Linked DNA regions of Homo sapiens. The protein of the gene in region 1 purifies or fractionates together with the protein of each later gene. This does not show direct contact. Each region holds a gene or a part of one and is shown in the gene's direction. Other genes may lie near its edges.

What was found.
Region 2: the proteins of NXPH3 (region 1) and PROS1 purify together in Homo sapiens (affinity purification with mass spectrometry; one large-scale study listed by BioGRID and IntAct). This does not show direct contact.
Region 3: the proteins of NXPH3 (region 1) and SUFU purify together in Homo sapiens (affinity purification with mass spectrometry; 4 studies listed by BioGRID and IntAct, with this or other methods). This does not show direct contact.
Region 4: the proteins of NXPH3 (region 1) and CSPG4 purify together in Homo sapiens (affinity purification with mass spectrometry; one large-scale study listed by BioGRID and IntAct). This does not show direct contact.
Region 5: the proteins of NXPH3 (region 1) and OS9 purify together in Homo sapiens (affinity purification with mass spectrometry; one large-scale study listed by BioGRID and IntAct). This does not show direct contact.
Region 6: the proteins of NXPH3 (region 1) and NPC2 purify together in Homo sapiens (co-immunoprecipitation; one large-scale study listed by IntAct). This does not show direct contact.
Region 7: the proteins of NXPH3 (region 1) and OAF purify together in Homo sapiens (affinity purification with mass spectrometry; one large-scale study listed by BioGRID and IntAct). This does not show direct contact.

What each region holds. Positions count from the first base shown.
Region 1 is NC_000017.11:49,574,390-49,578,670, forward strand, and holds the start of NXPH3 (neurexophilin-3 precursor), read left to right. Parts: upstream 1-1,481; 5' UTR 1,482-1,830; coding exon 1,831-1,884; intron 1,885-4,206; coding exon 4,207-4,281. UniProt on the Homo sapiens protein: May be signaling molecules that resemble neuropeptides. Ligand for alpha-neurexins.
Region 2 is NC_000003.12:93,971,097-93,975,285, reverse strand, and holds the start of PROS1 (vitamin K-dependent protein S isoform 2 preproprotein), read left to right. Parts: upstream 1-1,389; 5' UTR 1,390-1,536; coding exon 1,537-1,612; intron 1,613-4,189. UniProt on the Homo sapiens protein: Anticoagulant plasma protein; it is a cofactor to activated protein C in the degradation of coagulation factors Va and VIIIa. It helps to prevent coagulation and stimulating fibrinolysis.
Region 3 is NC_000010.11:102,510,472-102,513,971, forward strand, and holds part of SUFU (suppressor of fused homolog), read left to right. Parts: intron 1-3,500. UniProt on the Homo sapiens protein: Negative regulator in the hedgehog/smoothened signaling pathway. Down-regulates GLI1-mediated transactivation of target genes. Down-regulates GLI2-mediated transactivation of target genes. Part of a corepressor complex that acts on DNA-bound GLI1.
Region 4 is NC_000015.10:75,674,849-75,678,348, reverse strand, and holds part of CSPG4 (chondroitin sulfate proteoglycan 4 precursor), read left to right. Parts: intron 1-462; coding exon 463-646; intron 647-964; coding exon 965-2,799; 3' UTR 2,800-3,500. UniProt on the Homo sapiens protein: Proteoglycan playing a role in cell proliferation and migration which stimulates endothelial cells motility during microvascular morphogenesis. May also inhibit neurite outgrowth and growth cone collapse during axon regeneration.
Region 5 is NC_000012.12:57,700,632-57,704,131, forward strand, and holds part of OS9 (protein OS-9 isoform 1 precursor), read left to right. Parts: intron 1-3,500. UniProt on the Homo sapiens protein: Lectin component of the HRD1 complex, which functions in endoplasmic reticulum (ER) quality control and ER-associated degradation (ERAD).
Region 6 is NC_000014.9:74,483,306-74,486,805, reverse strand, and holds part of NPC2 (NPC intracellular cholesterol transporter 2 isoform 2 precursor), read left to right. Parts: intron 1-369; coding exon 370-477; intron 478-2,218; coding exon 2,219-2,391; intron 2,392-3,500. UniProt on the Homo sapiens protein: Intracellular cholesterol transporter which acts in concert with NPC1 and plays an important role in the egress of cholesterol from the lysosomal compartment.
Region 7 is NC_000011.10:120,228,032-120,230,834, forward strand, and holds the end of OAF (out at first protein homolog precursor), read left to right. Parts: intron 1-836; coding exon 837-1,111; 3' UTR 1,112-2,303; downstream 2,304-2,803.

The sequences.
Region 1 (4,281 bases):
TCAGGCCAACAGCTTCTCCCTCCCAGCCAGACCAGAGGCTTAGAGGCCAAACAAAGATTTGCCTGTTCCTGCCTCCCCGGCTTTGGGGGGGTCTTTGACTAGACATGCACGCCACCACCCACCCCACCCCCCACCAACACCAAGAAAGAGCTGTTGCATCTTGGTATGGCCCAGGGTGCCTGGAAATGCAGGGGGCTCTGTGATGCTGTCTGGGTTTTGCAGAATCTGTCTCCCTCATCGCACTTGGCCCAGGCTGATATTAAGATTCATCTGCATTCCCCGCGCACCCGCCTGGCAGATGGTGGGGGAGGAGGCTGGGTGCGTGCCGGGGTTGCAGCCACGGGACCAAGCTGGGCCTTGGAGGGCCACAGAGCAGAGTGCCCACCCACCGTGCTCCTTGGGCCCAGCCCAAGCTGGGACCACTTCAAATGATGGGGTGCCTCCTCACCTTCATAGCCTCCAAGGGATGCCAGGACTTGACCTTTCATTTTTCTACAGACTAAAGGGACCCTGGAATTCCAGGAGGGAGACCTGAAGATATGGAGTGGGGGTGATGGAGGATGGGCCCCCATCTTTGGGAATCTCAGATCAGGGTCGTGTTCTTCCTCCTTGCCCTGGAGGTTTGCAGAGACCCCACTGGGACAGGAGCCACTCTCGGCCTGGTGACCCCTGTGGCATAGAGAGGGTAAGTAGTGAATAATGAAGGGACAGGCTCCAGGAAGGCCTTGCTCCCCTCACTCTCCAGCTTCTCAGGACCTGCCCCCGGCCCCAGAATCTAGCCTGGCCCCTAACAGCCTTTTCAGCCCAGGGGCCCAGCCAAATACTTCCTGTCACAGTGGCTGGACCGAGAAGGTCCAGGGATTATCTCAGCCCCTCCAAGTAAAGTAGAAGAGGGAAGGAGCAGACATCATAACAAAAGGAGTGCAGGCTAGACACCCAGAAGGACTTCCCTCAGCACAGGTTTTGGCTCTTAGAATGGGTTTTTTAAAAAAAGGATCTTTCTTAATTCCAGGACTCCTGAGTTGGGGGCAGGGCAGCCGATTCTTGCTGCCCGCTCCCGGGGAACGGGCGCCCTGCAAAAGAGGTGGAAACGGTAGGGTCCGTATCCCCTGGCCACCACCCTCTCCCTTCCTCTCCAAGAGCTACTCCGCCCCCGCGTGCCGTCCTCTCCTGGCTGGAGAGCCGGCGTCCTAGGTCCCCGGGCTGCGGGCCGGCAGGGGAGGAGTTAACTCCGGAGGTACCGGCTGGGCTCACTGTACCTGCCGCCGCCGCCGCCGCCGCCGGTGGGAGGGACGAGGAAGCGGGAGCCGCCTGGGCGCCAGGAGCGCTCTAGTCTGGCGGGGCGCAGCGCAGCGCGGGGAGCGGGCGGCCGGGGCTCCGCGCGGCTGGGGGCGTCCGCCAGGGGGCGCGCCGCGACGGGGCGGGTGGAGCAGCCTGGTTTGGGGAATTAGCACCAAGGACGGGCGCGCGCGCAGGTCCCCAGCACATCTGGGCGAGAGCGGCGCCGCTGGAGCCGAGGGGGGCGCCGAGCGCAGATCTGGAGCAGCAGAGCCACGGCGCAGCTGGGGCCCTTCGAGGCGCTCGGGGCGCACATCTGGGACCTCGAGCGGGGGCCGTGCCGCGCGCAGCTGGACCAGGGGAGGGGGGCGGCGGCTGCACAGCTGGACCGAAGGGGGCGGGGTCGGCCCTGGGCGACCCGCTGAGGGGAGGGCCGCGGGCCGCCGGGGACTGGAGCATGGGACGGCGCGCCTGAAGGAGCAGGAAGGGGAAGGAGGCCTGGGACCCCGAAAAGAGAAGGGGAGAGCGAGGGGACGAGAGCGGAGGAGGAAGATGCAACTGACTCGCTGCTGCTTCGTGTTCCTGGTGCAGGGTAGCCTCTATCTGGTGAGTGGTCCGAGGGGAGCTGCGCAGAGGGGCGGGGGCCCGGAGGATCGGGGGAGAGCGCGGGAAGCTTGCGAGCCCTGAAACTTTCTCCCTTCCCCCGACATCCCGGGGATGGCGGGGAAGACTGGAGGCTGGGGGAGAGGGCGGGTCCGAGGCCGGAGACTGGACAGATAGGGTTAATAGGGGCGGGGAGAGGGTGCTTGGCTGGCCCACCCACTCCGCAGCGGGTGGCTGGAGGTGCGACCAGCGCTCGGAAAAAGGCCTGGAGCCGGGTCGCCAGGGTTACCCTACCCCTTCCCAGAGCCTCAGGACCGCTGAAGCCGGGGGCGAGTGGGGCGCGGGTCGTGGAGCTGGTGACCTGCAGGCTTTTCCCCTGACCTCTGGGACTCAGAGAGCCTCGGGTTCTGGGTCCCCCAGAGCACAGAGCCGGTCCAGGCGGGGGGCGGCCCCCGCGTCCCTCCCCTCCCGCCTTCCCTCCCGCTCCCTCCCTCCCCGCCTGTTGTTTTCCTCTGCTCTCCCGGCTGCGCGCAGCCGGAGCCCCACAGGACTTGGGCAGGCGGCTCCCGCCCCAGGCACTCGCGGCAGCTGAGCGGAGCGCCCAGAGCCCGCTCCCCGTGCGCCGGCTCCGCGGCTTCTCGGCGACCCAGGGCGCCGGGGATCCCCTCCCCGAACCCAGCCCGTGGCTTAACTCCCCTCCGACCGAGCGCCCGCTGACCCTCCCCGCAATACTGTCGTGAAGCCTCAGCCCCACATCTGGACCTGCCCCTTTAATCAACAAGCCCCTTGCCACCGCCCCATGCCACTGTGGGAAGAGCCCTTCCCTTCTCACGGCCCCACCTTTACCCTCCAGCCACTCAGCCGTGACCCTCAGGAGCAAGTACCTACAGGTCTGCAGCCCTAGACCCAGACCCCGAGCCTCCCGTCCTAGCCGTCCCTCTACCCCACCTCTGGGGCCTGGCAGTCAGGGCCAGCCTGAACTGTGGGGCAGAGACAGACTCGGCCACAGCACACAGCTGCCGGCAACACCCAGGCCAGAACACAGGCATGAGGACCCCACAGCCCCTTGGAACCCTACTGTCCCCACCCCAGTGTCACCACCAAATCCAGATGCCCCCCGGTGCTGGTAGTAAAGACACCTAGGGCAAGTGGTTGCTTTCAAAAGCTGAGCAAACCCACAGCCAGGCTGCGCCTCAGGAAGCCCTGTCAACCCCCTGATGCCCCCCACTGCTGTCCCACTCTCCCTGTGGCACCTCCAGGAATCTCCCAGGTGTGGGTTGTCACCACAGCTGATCCAGCAGAGGGAGGATGAGCCCCTGCAGATTCCAGAGGCGGATGGCGCCTGGATAAAAACCCTTTCAAAAAGACACATCTGATCTGTGAGGCCAGGAGTGTGGAGTGTAAAGGAAGGGCTGACCCTATGTGAACTCAGCCTTGTAGTGTTGTAATCTCTGAGCCCCAGTGTCCTTATCTGTGAAATGGGAATAAGAACTCCTACCTCAGAATGCAAGTAACATCGTGGCATGTCATCATCAGTGTACCCTGGAGAGGTGTTTGGCTTTCCATTCCCATGGCCATCCTGGGTGTGGCATTCACTCCGGGTCTCCCCTAGTTCTCTTGCCAAACCTAAACTATATTCGTGCTTGAGAATTACACTGTGTTCTGCTTTCTTATTCCATTGTCTGGTGGTTCTCTTTGCATCTAAGGGTAGAAATTATCCTAGGGTAGGGACGGTGTCTTACCCAACAGACTAGGAAGTCCCAAAAGGCAGGGGCTGGCCTCTCCTGTCAAACCAGGGGCTCTCCCAGGATAAGAATGGTGCTTCCCTGTCTGACTCGGGGCTGTTTCAGAGCAGAGATTATGCCTCCCCCATCAGCCTGGGGATTTCACAGAGGCAGGGATTCTACTTCCTATCAAATTGGGGGCTCTGTCAGCACAGGGATGATGCTTCTGCAATTAGATGGGGGCTCCCCAAGATCAGAAGCTGGGCTTCCCCCATCAGACTGGGGACTCCCTAGGGGTAGGAGCCGTTGTCCCTGGTGCCACAGTTCACTGGAGAGAATTATTGTCGGTCTTTGAGACTTTGAATTTGAATAGTGGCCAAGACAGTGAGGAAAGGACAATGGGGGGGGGGGTGACCCAACTGTCAGAACCTGAGATGTACACAAGCTAGAGTGTACACTTGCCCCCCAGCTTCAGTGGGCAAGACGCAGGAGCTCCTCACCCAGGTCAGAGTGAAGTGGCAGGGACAGGGGTACTGCTGGTAGCGGGGGTGGTGGACCTCCAGGGACAGGGCTCTCACTGTACTCACAACTCCCTCCATAGGTCATCTGTGGCCAGGATGATGGTCCTCCCGGCTCAGAGGACCCTGAGCGTGATGACCACGAGGGCCAGCCCCGG
Region 2 (4,189 bases), on another chromosome or scaffold:
ACTTTCACAAAGTTAACTTCTGAGATTAATTAAAAACCCAGAATTTTATTGAAAGATGTATTGTCAAATTGTATATTAATAGATTCCAGATGGTTTTACAAAGTTTGACGTTACAGTGTAGGACACATAAATTTTCAGTGTTGACAATTATTACTGGCAATGTGATGCAAATTTGTGGTATTAAAAAGATATTCAGGCCAGGAGAAGTGGCTCACACCTGTAATCCCAAAGCTTTGGGAGGCCAAGGCAAGAGGATCACTTGAGGTCAGGAGTTCCAGACCAGTCTGGGCAACACAGCGATACCATCTCTACCAAAAAAAAAAAAAAAAAAAAAAAACAAATTAAAAAATTAGCCTGGCATAGTGGTGTGTGACTGTAGTCCTAGGTACTCAGGAGACTGAGGCAGGAGGATTGCTTGAGCTCAGAAGTTCGAGGCTGCAGTGAGCTATGATTGCACCACTGCACTCCAGTCTGGGCAACCTAGTGAGACCCTGTCTCGGATAAATAAATAAATAAATAAATAAGGCTAGGTGTGGTGGCTCACACCTGTAATCCCAGCACTTTGGGAGACCGAGGCAGGCAGATCACTCACGATCAGGAGTTCAGAACCAGCCTGGCCAACATGGTGAAACCCTGTCTCTACTAAAAATACAAAAAAACTAGCCAGGCATGGTGTCAGGCGCCTGTAATCCCACCTACTCAGGAGGCTGAGACAGGAGAATCACTTGAACCCGGGAGGTGGAGGTTGCAGTGAGCCGAAATTGCGCCACTGTTCTCCAGCCTGGGCGACAGAGTGAGACTCTGTCTCAAAAAAAAAAAAAATTTTTTTAAATTAATAAATAGGTAGATGTATAGATAGATATTCACTTTCAACTGAAGTCTTTATCGGAGCAAGATTTTTTTTAAGGTAGATTATTCTAATATTCCCTTCTTTTCTTCATGTTCTTTACATTATTTTTATGCCTGTATGGCATACAAGACCGAAAAAACATGTGGATGATCAAAATGACCCCATTTGCTTTTACTATCACCATAGTTCTTCCTAAAGTCCTCATTGACTTCCAGGTTTTGGTTAATATCTTCAGGGACAACTCAGTGTCTCACTGTTTCTGCTTCTGAACCTAGGGATCCTGTCCTCTTGAACCCTGGAAGTTGTCTTGACCAGTCAGAGAACTGCGTTCCCCACCCCTTCCCCTTTGGAAACGTCACACTGTGGAGGAAAAGCAGCAACTAGGGAGCTGGTGAAGAAGGATGTCTCAGCAGTGTTTACTAGGCCTCCAACACTAGAGCCCATCCCCCAGCTCCGAAAAGCTTCCTGGAAATGTCCTTGTTATCACTTCCCCTCTCGGGCTGGGCGCTGGGAGCGGGCGGTCTCCTCCGCCCCCGGCTGTTCCGCCGAGGCTCGCTGGGTCGCTGGCGCCGCCGCGCAGCACGGCTCAGACCGAGGCGCACAGGCTCGCAGCTCCGCGGCGCCTAGCGCTCCGGTCCCCGCCGCGACGCGCCACCGTCCCTGCCGGCGCCTCCGCGCGCTTCGAAATGAGGGTCCTGGGTGGGCGCTGCGGGGCGCTGCTGGCGTGTCTCCTCCTAGTGCTTCCCGTCTCAGAGGCAAACTGTGAGTAATCAATAGCGTCTCTTCTCCCTTCCCCAGCATTGTCGACTGAACTGCGTGCCCTGGTTGGTAGGATTTTCTTCTCTAGAGCTGCAGCCTCCTAGAAAGTTTCCAGTAAGTACCGACAGACACCCAGCGGATGGAAACAGCCGTGGATAGAGCAGGCAGTGCAATGGTGGGGCAGGATCACTATTTGCACAGTTGCGAGAATGTATTGCCTACAGGACAGATCTAAGAACCTAGATGACACTAAGTATCAATGGAGGGATGAGAACACCTGCCCATTTCCCTTCAAAGCTGAAGTTCCCAGTCAGAGAACTAGGATGAGCAGATTCTAGCTTATGAGTAGGGAAGAAAAGGTAACACACTGTGTCTTCCCTTTGTCCAAGCGCCTGCCCCCAACCTGCACCCGTCTCCTGAAACCTGCCTCCCTTTTGCAATTTCTGGACTTTGAGCTTGGTTTGCTTGTCTCACATTAACGAAATGTTTTAGGATGACTGAGGGTTTGTATAGCAGTAGATATATGTCACTTTCTAACCCTGAAATCAAAAGGACTGTTAAATACTGTATTCTATTTCTCAGATCGTTTGTACTGAGGATTTTTTAACACTGCATGCCACTGATCTGAGGTGGTGGCATGAATTCTTTATCTTTGTGTTTCAGGTTCTTTATGTCCTTATGCCCGGATTCAAGACAGGATATTGAGTTTTCTCTGAAAAATATATAAGGAATACCAAGGCAATTAGTACATTTTAGTGGTCAGTTAATTTGTTTTCTAAAGTTGTAAGTGTGTTTATTGAATAAAAACGCCTTTTTGTTTGTTTGTTTGAGGGTGAGTCTCGCTCTGCTGCCCAGGCTGGACTGCAGTGGCTGGATCTCCGCTCAATGCAACCTCCGCCCCCCGGCTTCAAGTGATACTCATGCCTCAGCCTCCCGAGCAGCTGGGATTACAGGTGCCTGCTTCGACACCCGGCTATTTTTTTTTTTTTTTTGTATTTTTACTAGAGACGGGGTTTCACCATGTTGGCCAGGCTGGTCTCGAGCTCCTGACCTCCGGTGATCCATCCGCCTTGGCCTCCCAAAGTGCTGGGATTACAGGCGTGAGCCACCGCACCTGGCCAAAAATGACTTCTTGTTCTATGTTTTATTTTCAGGGATTGGAACAGGAGTGAGAACTCTGAATTACAAATAACTTTTAGGAGTCTAGAGCTCCAAAGTAAACTTTTTGAAGATGGAAATTTCTAGAAAATTATATATCAATTTGCTAACATTCCACTAGTTTCTATTAGTTAGTCATCAGGATGAATGCAGTACTTTAAAAATCTAACTTGGGACTAAAACATTATTTTTTGATCTTACATTAAACAGCTACAATTGCAAAACTTCAGCATTCAAACCCCTATCATTCAGCCAATTTGTAACTACATGCGCTTATTACCTAAATAGTTCATTAGGACAATTAAATATTTGCTTCATAGCTAGTGTTTTGGAGAGGAGAAAGGCAAAGTAGCTTGCCACACTTAACTCCTTGTCATCATAGAAATTTGCTAGGCTTTTTCTCTTTGTAGAGATTGTTACATTTTGACTGAATCTAGGCAGAGGTAAAAATTATATGGGTTTGTGTATGTGTATTATATATAAACATATGGGGAATTACACTTGTTATATATAACACTGATAGAGCAGATAAATTAATTCTTCAAGTATATCACATAAAGAATAGTTGGCCCCATAATGCTTTCAGTTAAAAGTTTTTGATTGCTTAATTGGATTAAAAGTCATCTGTGGTTTACTTATGAGGAAATTTGGATATAGATGTGATGTTTTTAATCCATATGATTTGATTTTACTTTATTTTTATTTATTTACTTTTTTGAGACGGTCTAGTTCTGTCACTAAGGCTGGAGTGCAGTGGCATGATCATAGCTCATGGCAACCTCCCCCTCCCGAGCTCATGGGATCCTCCCAGATCAGCACCTATCTAGCACCGCACCCAGCTAATTTATGTGTGTGTGTGTGTGTGTGTGTGTGTGTGTGTGTGTGTGTGTGGTTTTTATTTTGTTTTGTTTTTTTGGTAGAGTTGGTGTTTTGCCATATTGCCTAGGCTGGTCTTGAACTCCAGGGTTCAAGCGGCCTGCCTACTTTGGCTGCCCAAAGTGCTGGGATTACAGGTGTGAGCCACTGTGCCCAGCCTCCATATGATTTTAAATCTGAGATATAATTAGAGCTGTAAATATTTTATTTGTAATTCATTGTGTAGTTCTTTATTTAGAATTATTTATTTATTTATTTATTTATTTATTTATTTATTTATTTATTTAGAGATGGAGTCTTGCTCTGTTGCCCAGGCTGGAGTGCAGGAGTGCAGTGGCGTGATCCCAGCTCACTGCAACCTCTGCCTCCTGGGTTCAAGTGATCCCCCCACCTCAGCCTCCCAAGTAGCTGGTATTGCACCAGCTGGCATGCACCACCATACCCGGCTAATTTTTGTATTTTTAGTAGAGACAGGGTTTCACTATGTTGGCCAGGCTGGTCTTGAACTCCTGACCTCCAGTGATCTGCCCACCTCAGCCTCCCAAA
Region 3 (3,500 bases), on another chromosome or scaffold:
TGCTGGGATTACAGGCGTGACGACTGTGCCCGGCCTGCTACCATCTATATTTTAAAAAGATTTTTTTTGGCTGGGCACAGTGGCTCATGCCTGTAATCCCAGCACTTTGTGGGGCTGAGGCAGGTGGCTCACTTGAGGTCAGGAGTTCGAGACCAGCCCGGCCAACATGGTGAAACCTTGTCTCTACTAAAAATACAAAAAATTAGCCAGGCATGGTAGCATGTGCCTGTACTCCCAACTACCCCGGAGGCTGAGGCACGAGAATCACTTGAACCTGGGAGGCAGAGGTTGCAGTGAGCTGAGATCGTGCCACTGTGCTCCAGCCTGGGCAACAGAGTGAAACTGTGTCTTAAAAAAATAATAATTAGGCTGGGTGTGGTGGCTCACGCCTATAATCCCAGCACTTTGGGAGGTCGAGGCAGGCGGATCACCTGAGGTTGGGAGTTTGAGACAAGCCTGACCAACATGGAGAAACCCTGTCTCTACTAAAAATAATAAAATTAGCCGGGCGTGGTGGCACATGCCTGTAATCCCAGCTACTAGGGAGGCTGAGGCAGGATAATTGCTTGAACCTGGGAGGAGTAGGTTGCAGTGAGCCAAGATTGTGCCATTGTACTCCAGCCTGGGCAACAAGAGTGAAACTCCATCTCAAAAAAAAAAAAAAAAGTAATAATAATAATAATAATAATGAAAATAAACAAAGTTTTTTTTATTTATATTCTTTTGATGGAGAGTTTCTTTTCTTCAATTTAAATGTAATCTTTCTATGTTTGTATTCTGTCAATTAAAAATAAAATAAATAGTCTTCCCTCAACCTCATTAGCATGGTTAATCAAGAGCTGATTTTATTTGTATTGTCATATCCTCTTCTGGTTTTTGCCTTTTGTACTTTTTTGCCCCTTATACCATGTCTTTTCTATCTTGGTGGTGGCTGCTTAACCTGGGCAGGTTGAAAGAGTAGCAGGACTCGTCCTGTCCTGCCTTTGCATAGCGACCAATTCTGGAGATGATGATGGTATCATAAAGAAGATGATGATAGCCTTTTTTCCCTTTGTTTAGTACTTACTGTCTTCCGTGTCATTGTGTTAAATGCTTTACAATCTTATCAGGGTCTCGTTATTCCTATTTTATAGATAAGAAAAATGAGTCTCTTGAGGGGTTAAATGAATTGCTAAAGTTACAGATCTAGGGGTAAAAGAGCTGGGATTGAATTGGGCTGTTTGAGTCCAAAGTTTGAGCTTTTTTGTTTTGTTTTTTGAGACAGGGTCACGCTCTGTCACCCAGGCAGGAGTGTAGTGGCTCAGTCATGGCTCACTGCAGCCTCAACCTCCTGGGCTCAAGCAATTATCCCACCTTAACCTGCCAAGGAGCTGGGACTACAGGCATGCACCACCACACCTGGCTAATTTTTCAAATTTTCTGTAGAGTTGAGGTCTCACTATGTTGCCCAGGCTGGTCTCAGATGCCTGGGCTGAAGCGATCTTCCTGCCTTGGCCTCCCAGAGTGTTGGGATTACAGGCGTGAACCACTGTATTCAGCCTCAGAGTTTGAGCTTTTAACCACTGGGCTATTCCACCTCTCTGAACACAGGCCTAACCCAACTTCCTCTTCTCTCTTGTTAAGCTCAGAGGCCCAGGTTTCATCTCTTCGCTGGTCACGTGTTGGGAGCAATGTCTGCAGCTGCCTTTACAGCCTTCCAAATGGATTCATTGCAGTGTCAGCAGAAGGATTTGGGAAGAGGGAATTAATCTTGCCTGAATGGGGACCCAGCATTACAGTATTAATAATGGAGATAGAATAGCAAACAGATGTGGGGAGTAAAGAGACTATGCTGGACCTTAATTTATATTTTTAATAAGAACCTGCAGAGAGTATTTAGTGCAGCTAGCCTGTACCTTTTTGTTGACAGATTTATTCTGGTTAAAAGAATATCATTTCCTATGTGGCTTAAGGATTCTTCCAGTCTACCTGCTAGGTATAGGCCCAAGGCCCAAAATAACATGAAGAATGTGATTGAGCAAGCCTCATATTTCAGAAGGGGCAACCTCTTAATTTGAAATAGGACCTTTCTTATTGTTTTTTTCTGGTTTAATACTATCCTCTTACATGTGTTTCATTTCTACATGGTACAGCACTTTGTATTCATATGTCATTTATGACAAGAGTGAAACCTCTATTTGGGTTTTCATGTCACCAATCAAGCCTAGTATTTTCCAGTATTACATCCTGGCACTAGAAGAATGTGGAAGGAATGTTCTCAGATATTTACCCAGTTCTGGTCTATGTTGCAGAAGTCAAAAGTACTTCTATAGGCTGCGCATGGTGCCTCATGCCTATAGTCCTAGCACTTTGGAGGTCAAGGCAGGAGGATCGCTTGAGCCCAGGAGTTTGACACCAGCCTGGGGAACATAGTGAGACCCTCCCCCATCTCTACAGAAAATACAGAAATTAGCCAGACATGGTGGTGTGCATCGTAGCCCTAGCTGCTTGGGGGGCTGAGGTGGGAGGATCACTGGAGCCTGGGAGTTTGAAGCTGCAGTAAGCCATAATTGCACTACTGCGCTCCAGTTTGGGTAACAGAGCGAGACCCTATCTCAAAAAATAAATAAAGAAAGAAAAATAATAAAACACGAATAGGTACCTTTATAATTGGCTTTGTACTGGGATGACTGGTTTCTTTTTGATCCTGTTAAGTTTCTTGAAGAAAAATGTGATTTTCCACACATTTCGTAATGGTGGGGCCTCTTTAAAATGACTTAATGAATCCTCATTTAAATTAGTACTCAAAGCTAGGCCAGAAAGGCAAGTGTTCTGCCATCCAGCTTAAGTGCTAAGGGGCGCTGGGTTGGAATGATGGCAAATGGATCTCTGGCAACAATTCTTCCACTGTCTGTGTCTTCTCTTCAGCAAAAAAGGAGCAGAAGCATTGATTCATTTTTTCAGCACACATTCATCAAGCACCTACTTTGTATCAGACACAGAACATCGTAATAGATGTCTTGGGGGATAAAATAGCAAGACATAATTCTTGTCTGAAGGAGCTCATGTTCTAGAGGGGAGATAAACATGTAAAGATGGTTATAATATTGAGTAATAAATGCTACAGTCCATGGGTGTAAAACACGGTCTGGGAGCAGAGCAGAGGGAGTAACTTCTAGTGAGGCTGCTGAATTGCTAGAGGCTGCAGTGAGGAGGTAGCGTTTGAGAGGAACCCTGTAGGAAGGGGCCTGGGATGCCATCTGCAGCCTGACGCGGTACCAACAACGCTTTTAGGAGTGAGAGGGACTTGAAAAACCTTCTAGCTCAGTATTTCAAAAACTTCTAGTGCCACTTTCATAATTGTTGCCACTTGTAGTATTATTTACTTCATGTTCCTTTTAAGTTATCCTCTCCTTTTTTAAACTGATATGAATTTATTTTTATTTTTATTTTTGAGATGGTCTCGCTCTGTTGCCTAGGCTGGAGGGCAGTGGCGAGGTCACGGCTCACTGCAGCCTCAA
Region 4 (3,500 bases), on another chromosome or scaffold:
ATTAAATAGCTTTAATGTAAGTGAGACAAAAGAATAGCATAGTTGCATAATGAAGGGAATGATGCATCTGGGGGGAACTGACACCATAGGAGAAAGCCAAGAGACAGTAGAAGTGGTGTCTTCAGAAGGCAAGAGGGGATAGGATCCTGTGCACAAGAGGAAGTACTCGCTTTAGAGAGCAGCACAGACAGATCATTGCATTCCCCAGAGGTCAGAGAAATTAGGCGATTTCCCCAGGGTGGCAGAGTTGGGGTTTGAGCCCAGGCTCCGGCTCCAGAGCCCAGCTCTGCACTGCATTGCCTGATGTGACCCAGTGAGTTAGTGAGGGAGACAGCGGGTCACACGCACAGACCTGGGCACACCCAGGAGAGCCCAGAGTGGGGCCTGAGGAGACAAAAGTGCTCAGTGTCTGGACAACACAGGCTGGACCTGCCTCTCACCCCACGATGGTGTCTCCCCTAGGTCTACGCTGGGAATATTCTGTATGAGCATGAGATGCCCCCCGAGCCCTTTTGGGAGGCCCATGATACCCTAGAGCTCCAGCTGTCCTCGCCGCCTGCCCGGGACGTGGCCGCCACCCTTGCTGTGGCTGTGTCTTTTGAGGCTGCCTGTCCCCAGCGCCCCAGCCACCTCTGGAAGAACAAAGGTGAACAGCATGATAAGCTGGCAAGATTGTGGGGAGGGACAATGGGAGAGGCCCAGGAGGAGGGGACACGAGGCCAGGGTCAGCAGCTCCTGTCTCAGCCCCCAGGACCTGGGAAGTCACAGGGAGGGTGAGTGGGGAAGCTTTGACATCACAGCGGGGACATAGTCCTTATCCTCCTGGGAACCCTGAGCCCCACCCTGGAGGACCTGGCTTGATGGTTGGGGGGAGGCACATCCTTGCCCTGAGGCACCCCCAGCTGAGGGTCCATCACTCTCCCCTCAGTGGGCTGGACCCTCATAGCCTATGTCCCACCCCCAGGTCTCTGGGTCCCCGAGGGCCAGCGGGCCAGGATCACCGTGGCTGCTCTGGATGCCTCCAATCTCTTGGCCAGCGTTCCATCACCCCAGCGCTCAGAGCATGATGTGCTCTTCCAGGTCACACAGTTCCCCAGCCGGGGCCAGCTGTTGGTGTCCGAGGAGCCCCTCCATGCTGGGCAGCCCCACTTCCTGCAGTCCCAGCTGGCTGCAGGGCAGCTAGTGTATGCCCACGGCGGTGGGGGCACCCAGCAGGATGGCTTCCACTTTCGTGCCCACCTCCAGGGGCCAGCAGGGGCCTCCGTGGCTGGACCCCAAACCTCAGAGGCCTTTGCCATCACGGTGAGGGATGTAAATGAGCGGCCCCCTCAGCCACAGGCCTCTGTCCCACTCCGGCTCACCCGAGGCTCTCGTGCCCCCATCTCCCGGGCCCAGCTGAGTGTGGTGGACCCAGACTCAGCTCCTGGGGAGATTGAGTACGAGGTCCAGCGGGCACCCCACAACGGCTTCCTCAGCCTGGTGGGTGGTGGCCTGGGGCCCGTGACCCGCTTCACGCAAGCCGATGTGGATTCAGGGCGGCTGGCCTTCGTGGCCAACGGGAGCAGCGTGGCAGGCATCTTCCAGCTGAGCATGTCTGATGGGGCCAGCCCACCCCTGCCCATGTCCCTGGCTGTGGACATCCTACCATCCGCCATCGAGGTGCAGCTGCGGGCACCCCTGGAGGTGCCCCAAGCTTTGGGGCGCTCCTCACTGAGCCAGCAGCAGCTCCGGGTGGTTTCAGATCGGGAGGAGCCAGAGGCAGCATACCGCCTCATCCAGGGACCCCAGTATGGGCATCTCCTGGTGGGCGGGCGGCCCACCTCGGCCTTCAGCCAATTCCAGATAGACCAGGGCGAGGTGGTCTTTGCCTTCACCAACTTCTCCTCCTCTCATGACCACTTCAGAGTCCTGGCACTGGCTAGGGGTGTCAATGCATCAGCCGTAGTGAACGTCACTGTGAGGGCTCTGCTGCATGTGTGGGCAGGTGGGCCATGGCCCCAGGGTGCCACCCTGCGCCTGGACCCCACCGTCCTAGATGCTGGCGAGCTGGCCAACCGCACAGGCAGTGTGCCGCGCTTCCGCCTCCTGGAGGGACCCCGGCATGGCCGCGTGGTCCGCGTGCCCCGAGCCAGGACGGAGCCCGGGGGCAGCCAGCTGGTGGAGCAGTTCACTCAGCAGGACCTTGAGGACGGGAGGCTGGGGCTGGAGGTGGGCAGGCCAGAGGGGAGGGCCCCCGGCCCCGCAGGTGACAGTCTCACTCTGGAGCTGTGGGCACAGGGCGTCCCGCCTGCTGTGGCCTCCCTGGACTTTGCCACTGAGCCTTACAATGCTGCCCGGCCCTACAGCGTGGCCCTGCTCAGTGTCCCCGAGGCCGCCCGGACGGAAGCAGGGAAGCCAGAGAGCAGCACCCCCACAGGCGAGCCAGGCCCCATGGCATCCAGCCCTGAGCCCGCTGTGGCCAAGGGAGGCTTCCTGAGCTTCCTTGAGGCCAACATGTTCAGCGTCATCATCCCCATGTGCCTGGTACTTCTGCTCCTGGCGCTCATCCTGCCCCTGCTCTTCTACCTCCGAAAACGCAACAAGACGGGCAAGCATGACGTCCAGGTCCTGACTGCCAAGCCCCGCAACGGCCTGGCTGGTGACACCGAGACCTTTCGCAAGGTGGAGCCAGGCCAGGCCATCCCGCTCACAGCTGTGCCTGGCCAGGGGCCCCCTCCAGGAGGCCAGCCTGACCCAGAGCTGCTGCAGTTCTGCCGGACACCCAACCCTGCCCTTAAGAATGGCCAGTACTGGGTGTGAGGCCTGGCCTGGGCCCAGATGCTGATCGGGCCAGGGACAGGCTTGCCCATGTCCCGGGCCCCATTGCTTCCATGCCTGGTGCTGTCTGAGTATCCCCAGAGCAAGAGAGACCTGGAGACACCAGGGGTGGAGGGTCCTGGGAGATAGTCCCAGGGGTCCGGGACAGAGTGGAGTCAAGAGCTGGAACCTCCCTCAGCTCACTCCGAGCCTGGAGAACTGCAGGGGCCAAGGTGGAGGCAGGCTTAAGTTCAGTCCTCCTGCCCTGGAGCTGGTTTGGGCTGTCAAAACCAGGGTAACCTCCTACATGGGTCATGACTCTGGGTCCTGGGTCTGTGACCTTGGGTAAGTCGCGCCTGACCCAGGCTGCTAAGAGGGCAAGGAGAAGGAAGTACCCTGGGGAGGGAAGGGACAGAGGAAGCTATTCCTGGCTTTTCCACTCCAACCCAGGCCACCCTTTGTCTCTGCCCCAGAGTTGAGAAAAAAACTTCCTCCCCTGGTTTTTTAGGGAGATGGTATCCCCTGGAGTAGAGGGCAAGAGGAGAGAGCGCCTCCAGTCTAGAAGGCATAAGCCAATAGGATAATATATTCAGGGTGCAGGGTGGGTAGGTTGCTCTGGGGATGGGTTTATTTAAGGGAGATTGCAAGGAAGCTATTTAACATGGTGCTGAGCTAGCCAGGACTGATGGAGCCCCTGGGGGTGT
Region 5 (3,500 bases), on another chromosome or scaffold:
ACTGGTTAGCTATATGGAATTAAATAAATTCCTATTTATTGGTGTGTGTTTTAAGATGCAACAGACTAGAACATGTTGAAGGCTGTTGGGTGGATGTTAGCGGAAAGGAGGAGAGGGAGATCAAGGTACAGTAGAAAAAGTGAGAAAAAAATGCGGACAGGGCTGGGATGCAGAACCCTGGGAGAGCAATTTGCCTCTAAAGGAAGGTCTAGGGTAGTAGACCAACTCAATTCTTATAAAGTAAGATTCTAGAGATATCAAAGATTTTTTTAAGTTATAAAACATACAATTATACAAAAAAAAATGTCATAGAGACCCATAAATTCACTGCCAAGTTAAACAGATGTTAATGTTTTGCCTGATTTGTTTCAGATCTCTGGTTTAAAAAAAGGAATAAAATGCTTGTGCTAATAGCTAAAGCCCACCTTCATATTTAGTCACTCTCCCTCCCGCCAGAAACAACCACAACCCTCACTATGTTTGTTTTGTATTTTTATTACTGATATATATATTACAGACAATAGATAGTGTTTTGTGTTTTAAAATTATACATCAGGAGTATCAACTTGTTTTTTTCACTGATCAGTGTGTTTGCCATTCAATGGCATGACATGGAACTCTGGTTGAGTGATTTTTTTTTTTTTTTTTTTTTTTTTTTTTTTGAGACAGAGTCTCGCTCTGTCACCCAGGCTGGAATACAGTAGTGCAATCTAGGCTCACTGCAACCTCGGCCTCCTGGGTTCAAGCGATTCTGCTGCCTCAGCCTCCTGAGTAGCTGGGACTATAGGTGCCCACCACCACGCCCAGTTAATTTTTATATTTTTAGTAGGGAAGGGGTTTCACCATGTTGGCCAGGCTGGTCTTGAACTCCTGACCTCAAGTGATCCACCCACCTTGGCCTCCCAAAGTGCTGGGATTACAGGTGTGAGCCACCGTGCCTGGCCTGGTTGAGTGATTTTAATGTCTGTATTGTGTTTCATTGCTTACTTACCCATTCCTCTGTTGATAAACAGTTGGGTTTCAACTCTAATGCCCTTATACACAGTGCTGCAATGTAGGTCTTATTGTGAGTGTACAAGAATTTCTCCAGGGAAATACCTAGAAAGTAGAATCACTGGGTTACAGGAGTGTATGTTATTGGTGAATTCAATTTTTTGTTTGTTTTGTTTTGTTTTGTTTTTTGAGATAGAGTTTCACTCTTGTTGCCCAGGCTGGAGTGCAATGGCGTGATCTTGGCTCACTGCAACCTCCGCCTCCCAGGATCAAGCGATTGTCCTGCCTCAGCCTCCTGAGTAGCTGGGACTACAGGCGCCTGCCACCATGCCCAGCTAATTTTTGTATTTTTAGTGGAGACGGGGTTTCACCATGTTGGCCAGGCTGGTCTTGAACTCCTTACATTGTGATCCGTCCACCTTGGCCTCCCAAAGTGCTGGGATTACAGGTGTGAGCCACCATGCCTGGCCCTCAATTTTTTTAATGATTGAAAAAATATATAACCTAAAAGTTATCATTCTAACAGTCTTTAAGTGTACAATTCAGTGGAAACATTCAGTGTTCTATCACCATCACTACTATTTCCAAAACTTTTTTCATCATCCCAAACAAAAATAACTCCTATTTCTCCCTCTCCCAGACTCTGTTCTACTTTCTGTCTGTATGAGTTTCCTGTTCTAGGTACTTCACATGAGTGAAATCATACAAGATTTGTCCTTTTGTGTCTGGCTTATTTCACTTAGCATGGTGTTTTCAAGGTTCATCCATGTTGTAGCATATATCAGAATTTTATTTCTTTTTATGGCTTAATCATGTTCCATTGTCTGTATATACATTTTGTTTACCTATTTATCAATGGATGGACAAATAGGTTTTCATCTTTTGGTTACTGTGAATAATGCTGCGATGAACATTGGTGTACAAGTATCTGTTTGAGTCCTGTTTTCAATTCTTTTGGGTCTGTACCTAGGAGTAGAATGTGCCTTATGGTAATTCTAGGTTTAGTTTTTTGAGGAACTGCCAAACTGTTTTCCATAGCAGTTGCATCATTTTACATTCCTAGTAGCAGTGCACAGGGTTCCAGTTTCTCCACACTACCTCCATCACTTATTTTCCTTTGTTTTCTTTTTCTTTTTTTTCAGTAATAGCCATCTTAATGGGTGTGAAGTAGTATCTCATAGTGGTTTTTGATTTGCATTTACCTAGTGATTAATGATGTTGAACATCTTTTCATATGCTTGGTGACCATTTGTATATCTTTTTTGGAGAAATGTCTATTCAAATCCTCTGCCCATTTTTGAATTGAGTTGGTTTTTGTTGGTGAGTTGTGAGAGTTCTTTATGTAATAAATTCTGAATATTAATCCCTTATCAGATCTATGATTTGTAAGTATTTTCTCCCATCCTGTGGTTGCCTTTTTACTATCTTTTGTTTTGCTTTGTTTTTTGGAGACAGAGTTTCACTCTTGTTGCCCAGGCTGGAGTGTAATGGCGCGATCTCAGCTCACTGCAACCTCCGCCTCCCAGGTTCAAGCGATTCTCCTGCATCAGCAGTGTCCTTTGGTGCACAAAAGCTTTTAATTTTGATTTCCAAGAGTTTTATAGTTTTAGCTCTTAAATTTAGGTCTTTGATTCATTTGAGGTTAATTTTTTTTTCTTAGAGATGGGGGTCTCGTTATGTTGCCCAGGCTAGCCTCAAACTCCTGGGCTCAGGTAAGCTTCCTACTTCAGCTTCTGAGTAGGTGGGATTATAGGGGTGTGCCATTGTGCCCAGCTGCTGATTTTGAGTTAATTTTTGTATGTGGTGTAATTTTTGCATATGGTCCAACTTCATTGTTTTGAATATGGATATCCAGTTTTCCTGGCATCGTTTGTTGAAAAGACTGTCCTTTCCCCATGGAATATTCTTGGTATCCTTACCAAAAATCAGTTGACCATATATGTGAGGGTTTATTTCTGGCCTTTCTATACTATTCCATTGGTAAATATGTCTGTCTTTTTGCCAGTATCACACTGTTTTGATTATAGTAGCTTTGTATTAAGATTTAAGTCAGGAAATGTGAGTCCTCTAACTTTGTTCTTTTTTTAATATTGTTATGGATATTTGGGATCCCTGGACATTCCATGTGAATTTTAAGATTTTTTTTTTTCTATAAAAAACACCATTGGATGCCTTTCATTTCTTTTTCATTCCTAATCACTCTAAAACTTCCAGTATTATGTTGAATAGAAATGAAAAGAATGGCTGTCCTTGTCTTGTTCCTAATCTTAAGGGAGAAGCTTTCAATGTTTCACCATTGAGTATGACGTTAACTGTGGGTTTTTCTTATATGGACTTTATCAATAACTGAAGACATTCCCTCCTATTCCTAGTTGATTGTTTTTTTACATGAAAAGGTTATTGAATTTATCAAGTCCATTTTCTGCATCAGTTGAGATGATCATTTGGGTTTTTTCCCCTTCATTCTATTAATGTATATGACATTGATTTACCTATGTTGAACCATC
Region 6 (3,500 bases), on another chromosome or scaffold:
AAGAATGCGAGATAAGACTCTAGGAATGTTTGGAATTTCTCTGATTGAAGTTTAATTCCTTTAATATGATCATTTATGGATATGGTCTTGATATTATTTAGTTTGACAAATATTAACTTTCTCTTGATCAAAAAACCAACTAGCTTCTTTATCATCTGAATTAAAGGCTATGATTTTAGCAGCAAGATGAATCAAGATTCTGACTTCTAATTGGGCATTATTCTTAAAGATTCCATCCTGGGAAACAGTCCGAGGAGAATGAGTTGACCCTAAATGGGAGAGCAGAGCACCTTCCCATTAGGTGGTGGGCAGCCTAGCTGGCTTATTTCTCCTCCTATTCTCCTATTCCAATTCATTTTTCTTTTGCAGGTTCTGTGGATGGAGTTATAAAGGAAGTGAATGTGAGCCCATGCCCCACCCAACCCTGCCAGCTGAGCAAAGGACAGTCTTACAGCGTCAATGTCACCTTCACCAGCAGTGCGTAAAAGTGGCTCTTAACTCAAATTCATGTTACAGCATAACCTAAATATCAAGTGTTGGAATAAGCATGGGAATGGAGGGGAGGGGAATTGGCAGTCATGAATTTTATGATTTCTTTTGCACCTCATGCAAAGCTAGGGTTCACTGTGCCCTTGGACACCCTTCTCATGCAGGGTCCATGGCTCCCAGACTCCCTTTAAGCAAACAGGGAGATGTCCATGTGTTCACAGGTTAGAGAAGACAGCTTGGCTTTTCTGTCTTGACCCATATTGCATAGTAGGCTATGATGGGAATGTCAGCTCTGTTTAGCTACAGACTGCAGAGTATTAGTATGGACCCCAATTCTTTAAGCTTTGGAACTCCTCCAAAATGTTGTTTTAAGCAGTAATGCCTTTCAGCTATTAAGTCTACATCCCACCTGAAAATAAAGGTGCAACTAATACTTAACAGCCTCCTTAAGATTTAGGGAACCCACTGGGGACCCAAGAAATAGCCAAGAAATCTGAGCTTTCTTCTCCAATATTCAAGAAATATCATTGGAACTTTTTGCTTTCTTGTACCACATCACTTTGAGATTTTTAAGAATCTAGACAAATGTAAAATCTTTTATTACTAAGCAGGGCATGTTCCTTGAATCTTTTCCTCATTTTCTGTCCTGTGAAACTAGACTAGACAGTCTAATAAGAAACCTCAAAGTTCCTGTCATCTTTTGTTCATAAGCCTAAAGACAGCTCTAAGTACTAGCTCCCTGTTTCCTCTCTGGACTATACCCTGGCCTCTCTATTGTTCCAAACCAAAAAAAAAAGCCTTCTGAACAAGTCATCCCCAACCCAGACAGAAGGAAAGAAACAGAACCAATTTTCTGGGTCTCCAAAATACCCTAATAACTCATAAGTCTGATTGCCCTCATTTTTTAATACCTTTATTCCTCCTGGCCATCTTGTGATGTGGAGGGTAAAGTTTATAAAGAATTGCATGTCTTTCTAATCTTACCCAATTTCTTTTTTTTTTTTTTTTTTTTTTTTTTTTTTGTGACAGAGTCTCGCTCTGTCACCCAGGCTGGAGTGCAGTGGCGCAATCTCAGCACACTGCAACCTCCGCCTCCTGGGCTCAAGCGATTCTCCCGCCTCAGCCTCTTGAGTAGCTGAGATGACAGGCATGCGCCACCACGCCCGGCTAATTTTTGTAGTTTTAGTAGAGACAGGGTTTTTCCATGTTGGCCAGGCTGGTCTCAAACTCCTGACCTCAGATGATCCACCCGCCTCAGCCTCCCAAAGTGCTGGGATTACAGGTGGGAGCTACTGTGATCCAGCCTAATCTTACCCTGCTAAAGGGTTACCTCTTTCACTGTTGTTACAGACCATGACATTTAAGACACACAATATACTTGGACAGAAGCTGATATAAATAGCAAACAGAAAGTTTACTGCCAAAAATCAGTTGCCTTGTTAGATAAGGTTGTTTATCCAGGTATCTCTGATTCTCCTAAGAAACTGTGAAGGGCCATGAAGAGCAAGGTTAAGAGCAAAGAAAACTTCTGCTGATTGTTTTTTTTTTTTTTTTTTTTTTTGCATAATTGTGTTTGGAGTGAATGCTTGCACTGTGCTAGTACCAAGCACCACTATCAAGAGAAATAGACCCTAGGAATGCTGTTGCTTGGGATTATTTCTGAATTTTTGATTTAGAGTTTGAAAATAGGTTATTTTCTTTGCCATCTGATTCTCTTTTTTTCTCTTAGATATTCAGTCTAAAAGCAGCAAGGCCGTGGTGCATGGCATCCTGATGGGCGTCCCAGTTCCCTTTCCCATTCCTGAGCCTGATGGTTGTAAGAGTGGAATTAACTGCCCTATCCAAAAAGACAAGACCTATAGCTACCTGAATAAACTACCAGTGAAAAGCGAATATCCCTCTGTAAGTGATACCATTATTGAGGACACGGGAGGCCTTGGGACTGGATTAGAGTTCTGAGGGCAGTGGGCAAGAAGCAGAGATGGGGGTAAAGGGCCCCTTATCTCTATGATGAAGAAGAAGCCCGAGGGAAAGGAGATAGGTGCGGTGTTAGGCATCAGGAGGTAGGGCAGGTCTTTTTCTCTGTGTCTCTTCATTCTTTCACTATGACCTGATGGTTAGCCTGGGCCTAATGATGCCATTTGTTTTTTAATATACTAAAATTTAATCATACATAAGAACTGTAATTTAATCTGACAGTAAAACACAAGAAGCAATATTAGAGTTGGTTTAGTATATTGTATATTTTAGCTTTGAAAGTCGTAGAAATCAGTTACCCCAGTTTTTTTCCTATAAAAGACCCATTTTTCCAAAGCATTATGCACAATTTCAATTAGAATATAATGACAGAGGATATTCCATAATTTTTAAAATATAAAATGAGGTAATTGATTCAAAAAAGTTATCTACTGCAATATCAATATCATTACAGATATAAAGTATGATGGTTCAACTTTTTAGTGCTTGATAGGGAGGAATCATGATAAAAAGGTCAATATGAAATCATTTGATTATAGTAGCAATATCTAACATTTGAAATGCATCCATGCTCTTTTGTATAATCATATTAGAGTCAAGTATATTTTCACATCTGTTATGTCTTATTTTCCAAGAGATATACACAGAGCAGTTTTTTTTCTCCAGGGAACTTATACAAACCAATATAAGATCTAAATTCTTCACATAATGTATAAAACAGGAGAAGCCTCTTCAAATTTATTTTTTGAAGTCTGGAATGCTGGCACTTTCCAATTAGGCAATAGTTCTTCATTCCTGTAACCTAGCTCAGAGCTGCTGCTGACTATGGGCCTAGAGCAGCAGACATGATTTCTTTTTAGGCTGTTTCTTTTCCACTGGTGTTTTTCTATTTATCTGTCTGACCAGGTCATAAAATATTTCATTAACATTGACCTTTGACTTTGCAGATTATTCTAAAATGGCACAGTTCCATCACTGTCATGCTAAATTCTGGCCCTGTTCTTTGCCAACTACTCACTCATCTTCCAGGTCAC
Region 7 (2,803 bases), on another chromosome or scaffold:
GCCCCACTGTGGGTGTGCTTTGCTGGCCCTTCTCTGCCTAGCCCTACTCAGATGTCACTTTTTTTTTTTTGAGATAAAGTCTCACTGTTGTCCCCCAGGCTGGAGTGCAATGGCACGATCTCGGCTCACTGCAACCTCCGCCACCCGGGTTCCAGCAATTCTCCTGCCTCAGCCTCCAGGATAGCTGAGATTATAGGTGCCCGCCACTGTGCCCAGCTAATTTTTGTGCTTTTAGTAGAAACAAGGTTTCACCGTGTTGGCCAGGCTGGTCTCAAACTCCTGGCCTCAGGTGATCCACCTGCCTCAGACTCCTAAAGTGGGATTACAGGCATGAGCCACTGTGCCCGGCCAGATGTCACCTTTTTTAAGAAGCCTTCCTTGACTTCCAACCTTGTCTCCCCACGCCTCTATCTCAGCACACTCCGGTATGGTGATTTTTTAAAGCATTGGGTGGCAGTGTGGTCTAGTGGAGGCCTTGAAACCTTGGCCAGATCATTAAACTCTGGGTCGATGTTCTCATCACTAAAACAGGGATGACGATACTTAGCCCATGGGGTGACTGATGGAGGTACTGTAAGTAGAGCCCGTAGCACACAGTTGATGCCATAGAGGAGGGTGATTCCTATTTAATCTGTTTCTCCCACGAGCCCAGCAAGGAGGAGCCTAGTAACCAGGTCTTACCTCTGTGTCCCATGGCAAGCTTGGAAATGGAGGTGTCTGTAAATGCCTGTGGGATGACAGAGGAGACCAAGTGGGGAATGGCAGCGGCCTCTGACTAGGGGAGCTCCTTCCCTCCCTCCCTCCCTCCCTCCCTGATCCTTGCCTCTCTCCCCCAGGTGTGGACAGTTCTGTGTTCGAGGCTCTGCCCAAGGCCTCAGAGCAGGCGGAGCTGCCTCGCTGCAGGCAGGTGGGGGACCACGGGAAGCCCTGCGTCTGCCGCTATGGCCTGAGCCTGGCCTGGTACCCCTGCATGCTCAAGTACTGCCACAGCCGCGACCGGCCCACGCCCTACAAGTGTGGCATCCGCAGCTGCCAGAAGAGCTACAGCTTCGACTTCTACGTGCCCCAGAGGCAGCTGTGTCTCTGGGATGAGGATCCCTACCCAGGCTAGGGTGGGAGCAACCTGGCGGGTGGCTGCTCTGGGCCCACTGCTCTTCACCAGCCACTAGAGGGGGTGGCAACCCCCACCTGAGGCCTTATTTCCCTCCCTCCCCACTCCCCTGGCCCTAGAGCCTGGGCCCCTCTGGCCCCATCTCACATGACTGTGAAGGGGGTGTGGCATGGCAGGGGGTCTCATGAAGGCACCCCCATTCCCACCCTGTGCCTTCCTTGCGGGCAGAGAGGGAGAGAAGGGCTCCCCAGATCTACACCCCTCCCTCCTGCATCTCCCCTGGAGTGTTCACTTGCAAGCTGCCAAAACATGATGGCCTCTGGTTGTTCTGTTGAACTCCTTGAACGTTTAGACCCTAAAAGGAGTCTATACCTGGACACCCACCTCCCCAGACACAACTCCCTTCCCCATGCACACATCTGGAAGGAGCTGGCCCCTCAGTCCCTTCCTACTCCCCAACAAGGGGCTCACTATCCCCAAAGAAGGAGCTGTTGGGGACCCACGACGCAGCCCCTGTACTGGATTACAGCATATTCTCATCTCTGGCCCCGAGGCTGCCTGTGGGGCGAGTGGAGACCTCCCATCACTGAGACAGATCACAGACCACGAGTGCCTTTCCCGGACCTGGACGTTGCCTCCAGAGCAGGCACCAGCTCTTTCCCTCTCTACACAGAAATATTTTTGTAAGGTTCTGGGGCAGGGAGGGAGCATGAAGTACGAGGAAAACTTGAATTCCAGATTTTTAGTGCAAAGTATTTATCATTTCTACCAGAAATAAACGTTTTAAGTTTTTACTTGACTAATGAGACCCAGAGTTTGGAGAAAACTTTTGGCCAATGCTGCCACCTGATGTCAGAAAGTGTCCCCACACCCTAGCAGTGGCCTATCTTGGAACAAGAACTTCGAAAGCACCTACTGTGTGCTCAGCCATTTGAGGAAGGAAGGAGGAGAAGGAAGATGTTACTAGGGAAGGATGAGATAAAACTTCTGCACCCAAGACAATGAGACAGACATAGCTGCAACCGTAGTAAGCCAGTCAGAAATAGCCAGCGCGAAGGCAAGAGATGGGGTGGAGATTGGAACCCCGCTTCAGATCTGGGCTCGGCTACTTACCTGCTGTGCAGCCATGGGTCAAGTTGCTTGACCTCTCTGTGCCTCCACTCCCTTAGCTATAAAATGAGCTTACTTAAGAGACCGAAGTGAATTCTTGCATGTCAAGCATCTAGCACATAGTGCTGTTAGCCATTCTTAGTATCATTACTATTAGTGAAAAAAGCAGACATTCCTGCAGCTATAAGCCTGACTCAATGAAATCAGACATCTGGAAGGCTCTTCACTTCCAAAGTATCTTTCAACATGAAGAGGCTGTAATAGGAAGTGCCGGGCAGGGTTCTGGATGGTTCCAGAGCGAGGGATGTGCAGGCTGCATGTATTGGGAAAGGCTTTCTGGAAGAGTTGGGGTGTGGGTTGAGGCTGGAAGATGGTAACGATTTGGCAAGGTGGAGGCAGGAGTGTTTTAGGGGTTGGAAGAGTCTCATGGGTTCCCCAGGTGACCCAACTTTCTCAAGGAAGAGATGGGGACAGTCAGATCCTTCCTTGAAGGCCTTGGCGAGGGAAGGGGTTTGCAGGGTGGTCCCCTTTACTCTGCTCCCAGAACTCCCAGAACAGGCTGCAACTGCCCCTTGAACTCAT